Linked DNA regions of Homo sapiens. The protein of the gene in region 1 purifies or fractionates together with the protein of each later gene. This does not show direct contact. Each region holds a gene or a part of one and is shown in the gene's direction. Other genes may lie near its edges.

The links.
Region 2: the proteins of SYT12 (region 1) and MADD purify together in Homo sapiens (co-immunoprecipitation; 3 studies listed by BioGRID and IntAct, with this or other methods). This does not show direct contact.

Annotation. Positions count from the first base shown.
Region 1 is NC_000011.10:67,021,740-67,025,933, forward strand, and holds the start of SYT12 (synaptotagmin-12), read left to right. Parts: upstream 1-1,394; 5' UTR 1,395-1,721; intron 1,722-4,194. UniProt on the Homo sapiens protein: Synaptic vesicle phosphoprotein that enhances spontaneous neurotransmitter release but does not effect induced neurotransmitter release. Unlike other synaptotagmins, it does not bind Ca(2+) or phospholipids.
Region 2 is NC_000011.10:47,276,633-47,280,132, forward strand, and holds part of MADD (MAP kinase-activating death domain protein), read left to right. Parts: intron 1-99; coding exon 100-231; intron 232-1,532; coding exon 1,533-1,646; intron 1,647-2,366; coding exon 2,367-2,447; intron 2,448-3,500. UniProt on the Homo sapiens protein: Guanyl-nucleotide exchange factor that regulates small GTPases of the Rab family. Converts GDP-bound inactive form of RAB27A and RAB27B to the GTP-bound active forms.

The DNA of each region.
Region 1 (4,194 bases):
ACTCAATCGTACCAAAGCTGCAGCTGGCTGTGAAGGTTGAGTTAAATGGGAAATGGCAGTGAAAGCTCAGGGCCCATTACCCAGGCCCCCCGCCCCATGATAATGCCCTTTCTCTTTGTTCTGTTCCAGGTCCAGGAAATGAAATGAAGACAAAAGCGCCCCCTGTGGGTGAAGGTAAGATGCAGCTCTCTTTCTTTTTTTCTTTTTCTTTTCTTTTTTTTTTTTTGAGACGGAGTCGCCGCGATCTCACTGCAAGCTCCGCCTCCTGGGTTCACGCCATTCTCTTGCCTCAGCCTCCCGAGTAGCTGGGACTACAGGCGCCCGCCACCACACCTGGCTAATTTTTTTGTATTTTTAGTAGAGACGGGGTTTCACCGTGTTAGCCAGATGCAACTCTCTTTCTAGGGCTCCCCAGCATCCTGTCTTCTAGACCAAGGATGCCCACACTGCACCAAGCCAGCACAGACCCAGCCTCCACTGAGAGGTCAGTGCCCACAGGCTGCCCTCAGCTCTAAAGGCCCAGAGTGTAGATGAGCCAGGAAGCACTGCCACCCTTGCACACTTGCTCCCCATCTGGGATCCTCGCCCCTCTTCCTCCCCCACCCCAGACCGTTGGAGAGGTCTCCCCAGGTGTCCACCCAGCCTGCTCCCCTGGTTACTGTGCCCACAACATGTGGCACCTTCCCCCGCACCCAGCCCCTCCCAGTGCAAGCCGTGCCTCACTGCCAGACTGCGCGGGCAGGGAGGGACCTGTCCCCTGTTCCCGGAAGATGGAAGATCGCCCACACCTGGCACTGTGCCCAGCCCCTGCGGGGGCGTCATAAATATCTCCTGAATGATTCATTCATTCCTTTGGGAGAGAAAGCACGACCCCTTAGTGGTTAAAGGTATGGAGTTTGAAGTCACACAGACCTGGGTTCAATTCTGGCTCTGACCTTTGGCTCTGTGACCTTGGTCACCTCTCTGAGCCTGTTTCTTCATGTAAAAAATGGAGTCACCACGACCAGATTAGGCCACGGTGAGGACTGAGATGATGTTGTAAGGCACCAGCACAGAGCTGACCTACAGCTCAATCGTGGTGGGAGGGAGTAATTATCCATTCAGAAAAGGGGAAACTTTCCGCTGCGCCTCCTGTCGCTGTTTTCCTTGGCTCCCGGAGGTGCGCAGTATCGGGTCCGTTTTTAAGGTAAAGAAACTGAGGCCTAGAAAGAGAACAGGATAACCCAGGGCGCGGAGGCTGGGGCTAGAACCCAGGCCGGCTGGCTCTGAGTCCAGTGCTTGGCCTGCCTCTCAGAGGCCTGTGGGCACGTCCCCACCCACCCCTGTCCCCAGGCGTGGGAGCGAGGGGTTGGGCTTGGCCTCAGGGCGTCCCTGGATCCCGGACGCGCTTGGGGATCTCCGGCTCGGACCCCAGGAGCAGAGACAGCGCTCGAGCTTGTCACTTTAAATTCAAGAGGGAGCGGGCGGGCAAGCGGGCGAGCGCGAGGGAGCGCGCGGCGGGCTCCTGGGAGCGTGCCCGGACTGCGGCGCAGCTCCGGTCCGCCGCCCCGGCCCGGCCGAGCCCCCGGCCCGCGCCGCGCTCCTCGGAGGCGGGAGCCCGGCGACACTGCAGGGGTGGCGTTGCCGCCGGCGGCCGGGCTAGGCGCAGGTGCGTGCGCGCTGCGGGAGGCGGGCCGGCAGCTGGAGCCCAGCCGGAGCGGCGGCCCCTCCGCGGAGCCCGGGTGAGTACGCACCCCGCCGACCCCCGTGCGCGGCCGGGATCGCACCCTGATCGCGGACGCACGCAGCCCCCTCCTCGGGCCCTGGGCCCGGGACCCCAGAGCCCCGCGCACTCCGCGCTCCTGCACCTCCGCGCCGCGCTTGCACACGAACGAATGCCGGGCACCGCGCACGCTGGGCGCCCTTACCCGGCCCGGCCACTCCGCGCAGTGCGCATCGCATCGCACGCCCCGCATGTGCACACACGCGGCTCACCCGGCCATTTACACGCCTCCCCGCGCCCACGCTGCACACACGCCCCTCACTTTCGCATTCAGCGCCCTGACTGTCCTCACTGTCCCTGCTCTGGCTTCGCACCCCCTCCCGACACTCCGGTCCCCATACACCCTGGAGGTTCCCGAGGCAGGAGCGCTGGGTCTGCAGGAACCGTCCCAATCTGGAGGGGAACGTTGCACCCCAGCCCGAGGAGGCCCTGGCCGTGTGAAGAGCCAGATATGACCCTCAGCCGCCGGTGGCACCAGCCTGAGTGGGGGGCTTTCCAGAGCTTAGGAGAGGGGTATGGCGGGGCAGGGGAGGAAGCTTGCCCAGACTCAGGGCCTCAAGGCTGTAGATTTGGGCTGAAGTTGGGGGAGGGAGGTGGGGGGCCGGGAGCCTGGCCTGTGGGTGGAAGGCCCTGAGCTGGCCATCCTGGGAGCTCTCTTCCAGGGGCTGCAGAGAGACTGTGTGCACCCTCCTCCATTCCCAAAAGCCTGGGAAAGCTGCACCATGGAATGTCAGCTCCTTCTCCCCGTCAGGGGATGACAGTTTTAGAGAGCAGCAGCAATAGTGCTTCCTATTAGAAATGGGGAAATTGAGGCTCAGAGAGGGCAGGAGACCCACCGAAGTTACCACAGCCAGTGTGAAGAAGGGTTAGGACAAGTCCCCAAGCCCCCAGCCTCCCTACTCTGAAGTCTGAAAGCTTTCCTAAGCAGCTCTGCAGAGTGGGGGCTCCCAGCCTGGGTTTCAAACCCGGACTCTGCCACTTGTCAGCTCTGGTGACTGACTGACAAATAAAACACATCTGTAGGCTGGCAGCGCTGCCCACACTGCACCTCAGTTTCCTCTCCAGTACAAGGAGCAGGGTAGCAGCCCCCTCAGAGGGCTGCGGTGCTGAGATAACACAGGGCAAGTCACACAGTAGGTGCCCAATAAATGCCAGCCAGCACCTCCCAGCCAGTCTGTCCTGCGGTTTCTGTGGGCTGTTTGGGGGATGGCAGCAGGATGTGGTTATCTCAGAAAGCGGAGGAGGGGTACTTGAAAAGGTTTCAACCTAAAGATCCTGAAGAGGCTCACAGGTTGAAGGATGAGGCTCTCCTGGGCCCAACTCCCGACCCTTCCCATTGCCTTGCTAGCCAGAGAATGATGTGAGGACACTGGGCAAGGAGGTGGGGTGGAGCAGAAGGCAGGGACAGAGGGCCCCTCTCCCCCGCCGAGGCACAACATTCATGGAAAGCCAATTCTCTGACAAGCCCAGGAGGGGCCTCTGCCATGGTCTGATTCCAGCAAAGCTGGGGGAAGTGGGGGGCTCTTCCAACTCCCCACCCCAAAAGGCCTGCCTGTTCAGGAGTCAGCATGGTGACCAAGAGCCCAGGCCCAGATCCATTGCACCCTGGCACCAATCCCAGTGTTGCTACTTGTATGCTAGGTGACCTGGGGCCCCAGCTTCCTCATCTATAAAAGGGGGATCCATTAATCCACTGAATCATCATGTCCACATTGTGTACCTACTACAACCAGGCACAGTGCTAAGCACTTAGCACATGTTATGTCCACATGCATGTAGCAGTAAGGAGATATTGCTAGGTAGGTATGATCGAGCTGGAATTTGAACCTAGAGCTGTTTTCAATGAGTAAGCTCTGTGCAGTTTAGGGTCTGGGGATTTGGGACTGAACGAATTGGTCAGATGGGGAGGGGTGCTGCAGAGGTAGGGATGTGCAGTCTGGGAGCTCAGTGAGGGTCTGGAGCCACTCTGGTCCCCCATGTTATGCTCTTTGCTGTGTGTCTGGACACCGGGGATGCTCTGGTCACAGGCTGCCCTGGTCCCACTGTACCTCATTGCTATCCTCTTCTAGCCAAAGACACAGTCCTTCTGCCTGGCAGACCTCCAGGCTGCCAGCGGGAGCCCACTGAGGTGGTCCCAGGTGAGACAGAGTCAAGGGGTCTCGGGGATAGTGAGCAAAGCCCTTGAGAAGGGCACTGGCTGCACAGCAGCACTTGCGGCTTGGTCTGAGCTTCCTCCTCACTGGTTGGGTGACCTCGGGCCAATTCACTGCCCTTCTCTGAGCCTCCCTCTCCTCCTCCGTGGAGGAGGGGGTAGTAACAGGATTTGCCCCATGGGTCTTACGGGTGATGGGGAAGACGGCATGAGGGTTGTCACTGCTAATGGAAGAGGGGCTGGACTGGGCTACAGGAATGACTGCCAGGCCCAGCTCTAC
Region 2 (3,500 bases), about 20 Mb from region 1:
GCTCGATGAAGTGGAAACCAAGTTGTAATGTTGGAAGCTGTTTTCTTGTAAACCATATTTTATGTTTTGGAGTGATTCTTACTGGATGGCTCATGACAGGTGGTGCTACAGTCCCGAGACTACAATGCACTCTCCATGTCTGTGATGGCATTCGTGGCAATGATCTACCCACTGGAGTATATGTTTCCTGTCATCCCGCTGCTACCCACCTGCATGGCATCAGCAGAGCAGGTGAGTCTCAAGGCGACTTCCGGCTTTCTCACCTCTGTCTTCCTGAGGGAGGAGGCTTAATGCTCAAAGAAGTTGTAAGTGAGTGCTGGTCCTCAATCCTTTGTCATAACTTATTTGTCTACAAAATCTGACTGATTTGAACTGATCTGGTGGCAAGGCTTATGCTATTTTAGTTTTCATTTATCACAACAAATGTTAATGACTGTAGGCCACTGGCTACACTGCAGCAGGTGTTACGTGTGTTACGTAATACAGTAGTTCCTCCTTATCTGTGGAGGACACATTCCAAGACCCACCAGTGGATGCCTCAAACCACAGATAGTTCCAAACTCTATAGATACTTTGTTTTTTTCTATACATATATACCGGTGATACCGTTTAATTTATGAATTAGACACAGTAAGAGAGTAACAGTTTTCTCTTTGGGCATATATTTGGTGTTTTTTGGAGACAGAGTCTCCCTCTATCCCCCAGGCTGGAGTACAGTGGCACAATCTCGGCCCACTGGAGCCTCTGCCTTCCAGGTTCAAGTGATTCTCCTGCTTCAGCCTCCCTAGTAGCTGGGATTACAGGCACTGCCACCACCACACACCAAATAATTTTTTGTATTTTTAGTAGAGGCGGGGTTTCACCATGTTGGCTGGGCTGGTCTTGAACTCTTGACCTTAGGTGATCCGCCTGCCTCAGCCTCCCAAAGTGCTGGGATTACAGGCATGAGCCACCGTGCCCAGCCTCTTTCTACATATATTTGGCTTCTCTTTGGCATATCCCAATTGCCAGCATCAGTACCCTTGTGCTTTGGGGCCATTATTAAGTAAAATAAGGGTTACTTGAACACAAACGCTGAGATTGTGTGACAGTTGATCTGATAACCGAGATGGCTACAGGCTGGACACAGGGGTGATTCATGTCTGGGTGGGACAGAGCGGGACAGCATGAGATTTCATCATGCTTCTCAGAACTATTGTCCTGCACTTCAGATATGATCAAGCTGCAGTTTAAAATTTATGAATTGTTTATTTCTGGAATTTTCCTTTTAATATTTTCAGACTACAGTTTGCCTCAGTTAACTGGAATCACAGAAAGTGAAACTGTGGATAAGAAAGACTACTGTATACAAAAAAATGTACCATGTTACCTTTCAAAAAATCTGAAAAATTCTGAATTTTCAAATACATCTGGCCTCAAGAGTTTTGGAAGAGGGATTGTATCTGCATTTCCTTATCTAGAAGAATCCAGACTTGATAAGTGCTCATGATAGGTTTTGTCTTTGTTTCTCACCTTCTTTATCATTTCCACAGCTGCTGTTGGCTCCAACCCCGTACATCATTGGGGTTCCTGCCAGCTTCTTCCTCTACAAACTGGACTTCAAAATGCCTGATGATGTATGGCTAGTGGATCTGGACAGCAATAGGGTGAGGTTCTTGGCTGAGGCATTGTAGAGTCTAGAGGAGGATTGCATTCTAGACCCAGTCCTGAGATATCTGTTTCTAGATTCCTTTCAGGAACGTCCTAAGTTGTTGGATAATTTCTATTGCGAGACTTACTGAAACAAGTTTTTTTAAATGCTCCTTTTACCTTATTAGCCAAATAAACCCTTGGTTAGGTCTCAGAGAATTACAGGATTTATTTTTGCCAGAATTAAGTGACCCCCCACCATATCCTCCAAGAGCAGTCAGACAGTTGTGATCTGAGGGCCATTACATGTGGTATAGATCATCTCTTAATGGTTTCCCTGGGGTATAGTTTCCAGTAAGAAACTGTCTTTCAGTGCAGGCTTAATTAATTATATGACCATTCTGCAATGTGAATACATTCAGACTTTGGTGGGAAGCCCTTATGTGTGCTCATTGTAAAACTTAAAAAAAATAAAAATAAGCGTAAATAAAATAAGTGAAAAGAAAAACCATAATCCTTTTATCTAGAGATAATAACCAATAACATTAAGTTATATTTCATTTCAGATGCATATGTATGTCATATATGTGTGTACATATATCTTACTGTGCAGTTATATAATGTATATTCGTTTATATAATAATAATGTATATACGTCCTCTTATTTTTATTTATGTAAGTGAAATTCCTGAGCAATAAACTCTAAGGTCACGTCTTTTATCATTTCTCTGGTGCAGGTGATTGCCCCCACCAATGCAGAAGTGCTGCCTATCCTGCCAGAACCAGAATCACTAGAGCTGAAAAAGCATTTAAAGCAGGTAGGTGAAGAACGAAGGAAAGAAAGGGGAGTATTAGATGCTGTGGGATTCCTATAAGAAGACAGCTATTCTCAGAGCCAATTTCCTATCAAACTTCAAGTGGAGTAGTTTTCTTCACCCTGGATGGGCTTAAGAAAACGCGTATCCCATTTCTGGGTGGCAGAGTGAATTTCTGTTTTTGATTCCAATTCATTGTATGCTTTACCATCTTCTAATGCTTATGATGCTGTATAAAATAGCCCTTCACTCTCTGTTTCTTGTATGTGTGCCACTCTCTATGGCTTCAGAACATTTTCTCAGTCTTTTTTTTTTTTTTTTTTTGAGATGTGGAGTCTTGCTCTGTCCCCTAGGCTGGAGTGCAGTGGCGCGATCTCGGCTCACTGCAAGCTCTGCCTTCTGAGTTCACGCCATTCTTCTGCCTCTCCAGGAGCTGGGACTATAGGCGCACGCCGCCACACCCGGCTAATTTTTTTGTATTTTTGGTAGAGACGGGGTTTTGCCATGTTAGCCAGGATGGCCTCTATCTCCTGACCTCATGATCCGCCTGCCTCAGCCTCCCGAAGTGCTGGGATTACAGGCGTGAGCCACTGCGCCCGGCCGATTTTCTCAGTCTTGTTAGGTGGAAGTTAGTAGTGTGGACCGTCTGGCTGCTTTTATATTATCTTCTAGAGTTGATCCTGAGGGTTCCTTTCTTCAAAAATTCCTTTATTTGGCTGGGCACGGTGCCTCATGCCTGTAATCCCAGCACTTTGGGAGGCCGAGGCAGGTGAATCACGAGGTCAGGAGTTGAAGACCAGCCTGGCCATTATGTTGAAACCCTGTCTCTACTAAAAATACAAAAATTAGCCGGGCATGGTGGTGGACGCCCGTAGTCCAGCTACTCAGGAGGCTGAGGTAGAAGAATCACTTGAACCCAGGAGGCAGAGGTTGCAGTGAGCCAAGATTGCGCCATTGCACTCCTGCCTGGGCCACAGAGTGAGACTCAGTCTCAAACAAACAAAAAAATTCCTTTCTTTGAGTAATTCCTCACATCCATTTTTTATTGATTGATTT